Regions from separate parts of the Homo sapiens genome. Here region 2 is linked to region 1. The links come from fine-mapping of genetic effects on gene expression. A gene starts in region 1. The other region holds a variant in brackets. All regions are shown on one strand. Distances are between the middles of the regions. Region 1 holds the start of IPCEF1 (interaction protein for cytohesin exchange factors 1). Region 2 overlaps IPCEF1 (interaction protein for cytohesin exchange factors 1).

Region 1 (5,225 bases):
GTGAAACACTGTCTCTACTAAAAATACAAAACATAGCTGGGTGTGGTGGCACATATCTGTAATCCTGGCTACTCAGGAGGCTGAGGCAGGAGAATCACTTGAACCCTGGAGGCGGAGGTTGCAGTGAGCCGAGATAATTAATGCCACTGCACTCCAGCCTGGGTGACAGAGCAAGACTCTGTCTCAAAAAAAAAAAAAAAAAAAAAAGCACATCATCCATCATCCAGCACATGCTAGATGAGGCTCTTATTGCCAGAATGTGGAGTTCTGACTGTGGAGTGCTCATATCCACATACAATGCCTGTATTCTCTGCATGATTTCACTATGTGTAGAGACGAATCCTCGGTATGCTGCCCGGGGTTGGAATTGTGTGTGTTTGCTGTGCAGAGGCTGGGCGGACAGAGAGATTTGAAAGAGGGGTATGGGAGGGGCTGAGTTCTTACAGACTTTGAATTACTCTTCCTGTTTTCAGTCCTGTCACCCTATCACTCATTTAGCTCTCTTAGCTTCTTTTGGCTTGAGTTCCGGTCCTCTCAGGGATTCAGCACCGCACACGGGCAATTTCCTCCAACGCCGTGTTCTCCTAACTAATGAGATATTGTGGTTCCCCTGCCTGCCTCCATCTGTTATTGCTCCTCCATCGGCTTTCAGGCTGCCAGAAATCTGTTGTGCTCTCCCAAGTTCTGATGCTTTTCCTCCTTTTTTGGGTTATTGTGGGTTTATATCTTTTTTTTTCTTTTGAGACGGAATCTCGCTCTGTCACCCAGGCTGGAGTGCAGTGGCGCGATCTCAGGTCACTGCAACCTCCGCCTCCCAGGTTCAAACGATTCTCCTGCCTCAGCCTTCTGAGAAGCTGGGATTACAGGCTCGTGCCACCAGGCGTGGCTAATTTTTTGTATTTTTAGTAGAGACAGGTTTCACCATGTTAGCCAGGATGGTCTCGATCTCCTGACCTCATGATCTGCCAGCCTGGGGCTCCCAAAGTGTTGGGATTACAGGTGTGAGCCACCGTGCCCGGCCCTATAAACTTTTTATACTTTTCTCATTTTAACGGAGTCTTTGGGGAGGGAGGGAGCAAATCTGTGGTCAGCCCGTCATCTTGAACTGACAGTCCGGCCGTTTTGAGGATTATTCTAATTCTACAAATCATCTTTGCTCAAAGAATTTAAGTGGCTCTATTCTGGCCCCATAAAGGTAAATAACATGTCTTTTGAGGATATCTTTGATGATGGCATCTAAATGTCTGGTGAGAAGCCAGGCCATGCTGTTGATACCACTAAATTCCTTTAATATCACCTAGTACCATTTTTTTTTCTACGTAAAGCAGGGAACTAGAAGACAACTCAATATAGGGAGAAGATGAGGCAGCACTTCCAGAAATAGAAGTGTACACAAACAAGAAGCCGCTGAGAGAACCTTCATTTTGTTCCTGCTCAAAATGTACAGCATCTTCTTTCATTTTTTCACTCCTCCACAGATTTAGTTTACATTTTATCTTTGTCTTAGTCATTCAGGCTGTTATATCAAAACACCGTAGCCTGGGTGGCTTACAAACAAAAGACATTTATTTCTCACAGTTCTGGAGGCTGGACATCCAAGATCAAGGCGCCAGCAGATTCATTGTCTGGTGAGGACCTGCTTCCTCGTTCCTAGGTGACTGTCTTCTGGCCATGTCCTCATATGGTGGAGGGGTGGGCAGATCTCCAGGTTCTCTTTAATAAGAAAATTAATACCATTCATGAGGGCACTGTCCTCATGACCTAATCACTCCCCAAAGGTCCACCTCTAAATACAATCACATTGGGGATTAGGTTTCTATATATTCTATATATTCTATATATATATATATATATATATATATATATTTTATATATATATTATATATATATATTTTATATATATATTATATATATATATTTTATATATATATTATATATATATATTTTATATATATATATATTTTATATATATATTTTATATATATATTATATATATTATATATATTTTATATATATATTATATATATTATATATATTTTATATATATAATATATATATTTTATATATTATATATATATAATATATATAATATATATATTATATATATAATATATATATAATATATATATTATATATAATATATATATAATATATATATAATATATATATTATATATATATATTATATATATATATACACATACATATTTATTTATTTATTTATTTTGAGTTGGAGTCTTGCTCTGTCTCCTAGTCTGGAGTTCAGTGGTGCGATCTCGGCTCACTGCAACCTCTGCCTCCCAGGTTCAAGCAATTCTCCTGCCTCAGCCTCCTGAGTGGTTGGGATTACAGGCATCTGCCACCACGCCCAGCTGTATTCATTTCCCTAGAAGGTATAGAGAAACAAGAAGCTGGTGTTGAAAGGGAGATTGGGAGGGCAGGAATTTGTAATGAGATGGAATATCTCTGACTTTCAGCCTGCCATTTTCCTTTTCCAATGTGGGAAAGAAAAGTTTTGTGGTTAGAGACTCTTCTATGTCTACTGCAAAAGATGGCAGGCTAAGACTTATTTTTATCCTAAAATACGTTTTACAAATGTGTCTGTACCCTCTCTTTATTAGAGCATTATGAACGATTAGGAAAGGAGGAAAGAGGGAAATCTGAAAGAAGATTGAACCTAAAGAGGTTGAAGTGGCATTTCACCCAAAAATGCTGAGAATGACTCTGCAGATCATCTCACCCTCCATGCCTGTAAATGAACATCCTTGCCTCCAAAACAGGAAAGCAGAACCATGAACTGTTCCACCAATGTGCTCGGCAAATGAATACACTGGGCAGTGCTTAGTGATCAATGAACTCAGGCAGATGGGGTGTGCTTGCCTTACATGTACTGTGTCCTGGATATGGGCATCAAGGAAGGGTTTCATAACAATGAGAAGGAAGAACGTTAGGATTGAGGAAGTGGAGATGATACTTCCTCTTCTTTCGAAAGAGCTTTACTCTCTGATCAGCTTTGAATGTTAGTTCTGGGTTGACTGAGTTTCCAGAGCTGAGGCTGCTTTAAGTAGAATCCTCAAGCTTGGCCTCAGAGTACTATGAGGCTTCTGAATCCAGGAATAAGACTGCTCTTGGATTTACTCTCTTTGTATTGCATGTAAGTAACGTCACTTCTTGGCTGATGTATGAGAGGTAACTGCTTGACAGATCAAGATGGCAAAGCAATGGATACCCTAGCACTCTCCTTAGAGTAGTGAGGTAGGAAATATGACTTTGGGGATGTAATATTCACTCAGCTCTCTGTAATCTGGGAAGCCAGGTGCTAAAGATTCTTTAATTCTGTGAAAGCTTTGAAAGAGGAGAGAGTTGTGTACTCACTCTGCTTTTATGTTTCTTAAATGGGTGTTGTCTTGATAGGTGTTTAGACTGCAGACCACAGGTTTGATTTAGAAAAGCACAATTCAGCATGTATTTGGGTCCTGAGGAGTTCATTTGGGGAAGCACTCTGGGGCCGCCCTCTTTCGAGAAAGTGTGTTCTTTGCAAGGGAGCTTCCTTTGCATGGAGGCAGCTGGGGGACATTTTACACTTTGATAAAGGTCTCAGGCTTGCCAAAATATCTCTGGTATAAAAATGAAAGCTAGGTGTTGTTGGTTCAGAGTCTTTTAGTAAGGGTGTCTGGGGCACTTGATTTTTCTTTGCTGGGGTATATGTGAAAGTATTTAATTATAGAAGTCAGAATTATAACCCACTGAAGCATCTTTGACTACAGCAGTGGGCTCTATTAGTCTTGAGTGGCCTATGTGTTCCTAGTGCTGTCCTTGATAAAGTCTAATTTCTATCGAGTTATTTATTTTATGTAGAAAATTGAAACCGAGGGCTGGGCACAATGGCTCACACCTGTAATCCCAGTACTTTGGGTGACCACGGCGAGAGGATCACTTGAGGTCAGGAGTTTGAGACCAGCCTGGGGGCAAAATAATGAGACCTCATCTCTACAGGAAGAAAAAAAAAAAGAAAGAAAAGAAAATAGAAAATAGAATGCCGGGTGCGGTGGCTCACGCTTGTAATCCCAGCACTTTGGGAGCCCAAGGCGGGTGGATCATCTGAGGTCAGGAGTTCGAGACCAGCCTGGCCAACATGATGAAACCCCGTCTCTACTAAAAATACAAAAATTAACTGGGCGTGGGAGCATGCACCTGTAATCCCAGCTACCTGGGAAGCTGAGGCAGGAGAATTGCTTGAACCCGGGAAGCGGAGGTTGCAGTGAGCTGAGATTGCGCCACTGCACTTCAGCCTGGGTGACAGAGCAAGAGTTCATCTCAAAAAAAAAAAAGAAAGAAAGAAAGAAAAGAAACAGAAATGGAAAGAACACACATTTCTTTCTGCTCACATCATGCAAGCAAGGAAGAAAAGGGTGTAAGTTTGTGTATGTGTTGATGAACTCATTCTTTAATTTACCTTATAATTTCCTTCCATTCCTCTTTTTATAAATCAAGTGTCTTTTCTGGAGTGGGTCCATGTATGAACTATTTCAGGCAAGCTGTGTTAAGCAAATATACATCATCAGAGTATGGAAATAGGAAGTTCTTTCCTGCGGTAGTTTGCTGTGGCAATAAGAGATAAGAAATTACTTCATCACTATTGCCTGAGACTTTCCTTTTGACTCGTGCATCCTTTTGAACAGCTCACTTCTGCTTTCCATCCAGCTTGGAGGCTCTGCAGTGTGAGCTGATAATTGCAGTACAGGTTAACAATTTGCAAGTAGGTCTAATGTGGCAAATGGTGTGTGTGTGTGTGTGTGTGTGTGTGTGTGTGTGTGTGTGTGTGTGTGAAGAAAAATCCTAAAAAATAAGCTTTTTAGCCTTAAAGAGAATCCTGCAAATGGAGGAGTTACTTGTGCTCCCAAGTGCTCAGAACAGTGCCTGCTCTCAGTAAATATTTGTTGAATGAATGAATAACTGGCATAATTCATAAAATGAATGTGGTAGGAAAGCCATTGCTTTATCTCTGTTACTCAGGCACTTTAAAAAGTGAATGTTAGAAAAGATCAGAGTGGAGGAGGAGAGGAGAATATGAAGGTGTGGAGTAAAGAAAGGGTGTGTAGAACGGGGATCAGAAAAATCCCCAGGTCAGTAAAGTGAAAGGGTTGGCGATACATGGTGGTGGAGGTGGAGGTGGAGATAAAGGGGGTGGTGTTGGAAGTGGTGGTCGTAGGGGAGGTGATGGTG
Region 2 (5,225 bases), 120 kb after region 1:
ATCTTTGAGAAGTAGAGGTGGGAGATGCGCATTCTGGGGACTAATGGGAACAAAGGAATGAAAATATAAACGAGCTGTGCCAACCCACTGTGTTAGCGATTATATTGAATTCTCATAATAGCCGAGCAAGATAGATTTTATTATTCCCATTTTTCAAGGGAGTTTACTGAAGCTCAGGGAATTTAAGTAACTTGCTCAAAGTCTCATAAGGAGTAAATAGCAGAACTGGGATTTAAAACAAAGGTTTCCCAACGACAAAGCCAGGCTCTTTTCCCCAGGCTGCATAGCTTCTCCATTTAGAGGTGACTTAGGGCCAGTGAATGGGGGACTGAGACATGTAGTGATAGTGTAGGAATGTGGGTTTGATCCAGCAGGCAGTAGGGAGCCACTGCCTATTCTTGAGCCGGAAGGTGAGCTCGTGAAATTGGCATGCGAAAAATATGAACCTAGCAGCAATAGATTGGATGTTTTGGAGAGTGAGGGAGCTGCCAGAAGGCCAGTTAGGAGATGGTGAGAAAATGCAGGCGTTCAGACATGAGCTCCTGGACTAGAGTGCCAACAGTGAGAATGTAGGGCGCACTACGCAAATAAAAAGGGGTGAGGTATGAAGAACGCTTGGATATAAGACACAAAAAATTTGAGGCTAAAATAAGCATGATTCCAAGTTTTAGAGCCTGGGGAGACTGGGAAAATAATATGAAAATTGAGGGACAAAGAGTTTGTGAGTAAGAAGGGTGGAATTTCATTTAGATTCACCGTCGCTTACTTTTTTGGTGTATTTTAGTTTTGTACATTGTTTCTTTGTATAAAATTATTAGATACTTGTGTTTTTTAGTTTTCATTTATTGACACCATGTGTGCCATTGCATCACCAGTTCAAGGAAGCTTGAGGCCCCTGAGCCTTGACTAGAAAAAATGAATCATCCAACTATCTGTTTCTCTCTCTCTCTTTTTTTTTTTTTTTTTTTTGAGATGGAGTCTCACTTTGTTGCTAGGCTGAAGTGCAGTGGCGCGATCTCGGCTCACTGCAACCTCCGCCTCCCGGGTTCAAGCGATTCTCCTGCCTCAGCCTCCTGAGTAGCTGGGATTACAGGCGTGCACCACCACGCCCAGCTAAGTTTTGTATTTTTAGTAGAGACGGGGTTTCACCATGTTGGCCAGGATGGTCTCGATCTCTTGACCTCATGATTTGCCCGCCTCAGTCTCCCAAAGTGCTGGGATTACAGGCATGAGCCACCGCACCTGGCCCCAACTATCTATTTCATAAAAACTTTAGACAAACTGAAGAGGTTTGTAGGTTAATATCTGGTTTTGTATATATTACAGAGACTTTAATGTTCTTTGAGGCCCCAATATGTCTGTACAATTGTGATTGTGTTTCTCCTTTGCTTTCTGAATTGTGAAAGTTTTGCATGTTTGGGGATTGAAGTAACTGTCTGCATGAGATGTGTTCCATCTCTAGCTGCATGCACACTTCATGTGAATTTCAGAGGCTCTTATCTTTGGAAGGCATATTTCTTGAAATCAGTTTTATGAGAATCTCTATAGTGAAGATCTAATCACTTTTTACATTGGGCAGAATTACCCATGTAGAAAATGTTACTTGAAAGTCAAAATTTTCTCTTTTCATGAGACAGCTATTCTGCAAGTTTCAGTAAATATAGAGTACCTTTTTTTTTTTCAGCTCAAGAAAAATAAAGAACAGATTAATTTTCCCTGGGAAAGTGACATTAAGTCTTCTGAACCTTTCATCAGTAGGCATAGATTAGCATACATTTTGGAAAATGTCTGAGTGAGTTTACAATAGATTCAAAAAAATTTTATAGGAATTTATGAATACATTAGTCATAGCTTATTATATTCTTTCTCCCCCAGCTACAACATAAGCAGCAGAGGACGTATTCTTTACTTGTCTGATTTAAACTGTGTTTCTGTATCCTAGAAGTTGGCAGGTACAGAGCATGTACCAGTATTTTTTGAAGGAATTGCTTAATTATTACATTACTTAATTATCAATTAGTTGTATGAATTAACTAATTAAATTGAGCATTATTATTGAACACTGATGTGTTCCCAGACTTCTACCAAAATGAGAATTATGGGCTTTTAATTTATTTGAACTCTATATTTATTGTCTTAGCCAAGAACCAGCCTCTGAGCGTATCCCAAACAAAATTCCAATGTTTTGAAATGTTTCTTCAAGGTTGGGTGCTGTGGCTCACGCCTGTAGTCCCAGCACTTTGGGTGGCTGAGGTGGGCAGATCACTGAAGGTCAGGAGTTCAAGATCAGCCTGGCCAACATGGTGAAACCCCCCTCTACTAAAAATATAAAAATTAGCCAAGCGTGGTGGATATGCCTGTAGTCCCACCTACTTGGGAGACTGAGGCAAGAGAATTGCTTGAACATGGGAGGCGGAGGTTGCAGTTAGCCGAGATCACATCACTGCACTCCAGCCTGGGTGACAGAGCGAGACTGCGTCTCAAAAAAAAAAGTTTCTTCAGTGAAGACAATTCAAACTAACCATGTGAAATTGATGAACTTTTGGCCAACATATGGGTTCCTAGAATTTGCATTAGAAAGGAGAATGAGAAGGTGGAATGTTGACATGTCTGGACAGGGCAAAACGTGACATTTCAGCAGCTGTAGGTGACCGGTTTACCGCAAGACAATGACTCATGGATCAAAGGGGTAAAAATGCTTGCTTAGTTAACATTTGGAAACCTAAATGTTAGAATGATTGAGGACTTTCTTGAATTCTGTTACTTCTGACATTCTAATTTCACATGTGTGGAAATGAATTTTTAAATGGACATTTAGTT[T/G]ATTTATTGTCTATAATGTATTATTGTGTTCTAACAATTATTTTCCTTTGCAGATCCTTGAATGTATTTCTAAAATAATGGTTCCCCTGTCATAGCTTTATGGCCACATTATCTGTAGTTGGGATGGGCAGTTCTCAATAACTTCTTGTTGTAATGTGGGAACAATTGCTCATGTTGCCAATATTATTTTCCTTTAAATTCTTTCCAAACTTTTCAAAATTAACTGTGGAACACCGAGAGCCAGGAAATGTTGGTTTCTTTTGTCTTGTTCTCAGAAGGCAGTGATATGCTTGGGCATTGCCAGAGTGAATGCCATGGCTGAGGTATTTTAGAGGACAGTCTTCTTAGCTCACAGCAGTGAAATGCCCACTCAGGGGATACAGCTTCCTTCTTTTCTCTGGTGGACAGTGCATAGTACTTTTGTCGGTGTTTCCACAACTTCTTTTTTTTTTTAAAAAAAACAACAATATAGAATCCAACTTTTTACTTTTTGGAAATTTAAAGTAACTGAAAAATGCTTTAAAAGATTATACAATAGGGCCAGGCATGGTGGCTCACGCCTGTAATCCCAGCACTTTGGGAAGCTGAGATGGGAGGATCACTTGAGGCCAGGAGTTTGAGACCAGTTTGGTCAACATGGTGAGACCCCATCTCTTAAAAAACAGCTAAAAATAAAAATAAAAATTATAAAAAAGGTTATACAGTAGTATGTGCTCATAGGAAAAATTTGAAAATAGAAGTAAGCGAAATAAAAAAAGAAGACAGACATGGAAGCAAACACACAGAGAGAAATAAATGAATTAAGATCATACAGGCTTGGCCGGGTGTAGTGGCTCATGCCTATGATCCCAGCACTTTGGAAGGCCAAGACAGGCAGATCACCTGAGGTCGGGAGTTTGAGACCAGCCTGACCAACATGGAGAAACCCTGTCTGTATTAAAATATATATATATATACAAAATTAGCCCAGTATGGTGGTGCATGCCTGTAATTCCAGCTACTTGGGAGAGTGAGGCAGGAGAATCGCTTGAACCTGGGAGGCAGAGGTTGCAGTGAGCCGAGACAGCGCCATTGCACTCTAGCCTGGGCAACAAGAGTGAAACTCCATCTAAAAAATAAATAAATAAATAAAGGTTCCTACCACCATGGCACGAGTTTAGACATTTTGTTGTATGTGTTTCCAAGCATTTGTTTCTATGTTTTACAAAAATAAAATAATATCATACATGATGCTGTTGTCACTTGATTGTCTCACTAAGTAATACATAGAAACATATTTCCATGTTGATACATGTATATCCACAACATCATTTCTGATGGCTGTAAGAATTATATATGCATATATGATAGTTGATTTGCCAATGCATAGAATCTAAAATCAAAAATGGCTTTTATCCTAAAATCGTTTAAAATCGTTAACAGGAAATAGAGTACATAAGTGCACACACACTAACTTAAAAATAAATTGATATATATTGAATTGATATTTATAGTGCATAAATGTATAAGTATTGACACATATATAGATATGTATGTGTATAAATATTAACATATATATAGATATGCATGTGTATAAACATACATATGTATATGTGTGTGTATATAATTTCATCATTCTTGAAGCAAGCCAGCAGTAAGGTGGATTTCGGCAGCATGGTATAAGGGACAAATGGCACCTGGATTCTAATCCTGTACTTTATTATGAGGTCTTGTAGCTCTAAGTCAGTGATGCAAATGTCTATGCGTCTATTTTCTTGCAAGTAAATGTTGACCAAGAACACTATCTCTATATTATTCAAAGCTACTTTGAGAAGATTGAGTGCAGCTAAAAGCAATATTTAAAAAATCAAAGGAATGTATACAAACAAAAGCAATGTGTTTGCCTAAATATTGAGATTTTAGGATGCAGGAGAATTGTGCTAGGAATTTTCAGATACCAGGAATGGTTTTTCTCAGTGACTATGATCTGTCCTGTGTAAGAAAGTCCAAAAATACACCTACCGACCCCGTGTAAAGGATGATTTTAAGCTACAAGATGGGAATGGACTAGAAGACATTGGGTACTTGTCAATACAGCGTTTTCCACCCTGGAGGAAGAGTTCAGTTAACACATGAGTTAATGGTGAGGGTGTGGGCACATTTCCCAAGCAACAGAATGCCAAGTGGCCCATGGGATGAGCTGAACTTTTCATTAGGTTTGAGGATTTTCCTGAGAAGTCTTTATTTGAAGATTTATCATCTGTCTGGAGCAAGCTCTTTTAAGGGTCAGGTTCCAGCTGCTTCTTCTACAGACAAGCTAATTGATAGACTCATCTGTCACTGTGCTGCTGTGTTTAATCTTCCATAGAGCATGTTTCAAGAAGATTTCAAAAGGAAACCATAGAGAGGAAAGTTTAAACAAATAT

What was found. PIP is the estimated chance that this variant, and not a neighbour inherited with it, causes the effect.
Region 2: its variant is the best candidate, but not a certain one, in a credible set for the expression of IPCEF1 in whole blood (INTERVAL, PIP 0.61).

The regions. Positions count from the first base shown.
Region 1 is chr6:154,354,600-154,359,824 of GRCh38, reverse strand. It overlaps IPCEF1 (interaction protein for cytohesin exchange factors 1), which reads left to right and starts at 3,022. Exons shown (of 12, transcript NM_001130700.2): 1 at 3,022-3,153.
Region 2 is chr6:154,236,979-154,242,203 of GRCh38, reverse strand. All of the region lies in intron 5 of IPCEF1 (interaction protein for cytohesin exchange factors 1), which reads left to right. It also overlaps a transcript of OPRM1 not described here. Among named protein-coding and RNA genes, the nearest start is that of IPCEF1, 120 kb to the left of the region's middle. RefSeq lists a silencer at 2,542-2,742. The variant T/G (reference allele first, on the strand shown) is at 2,821.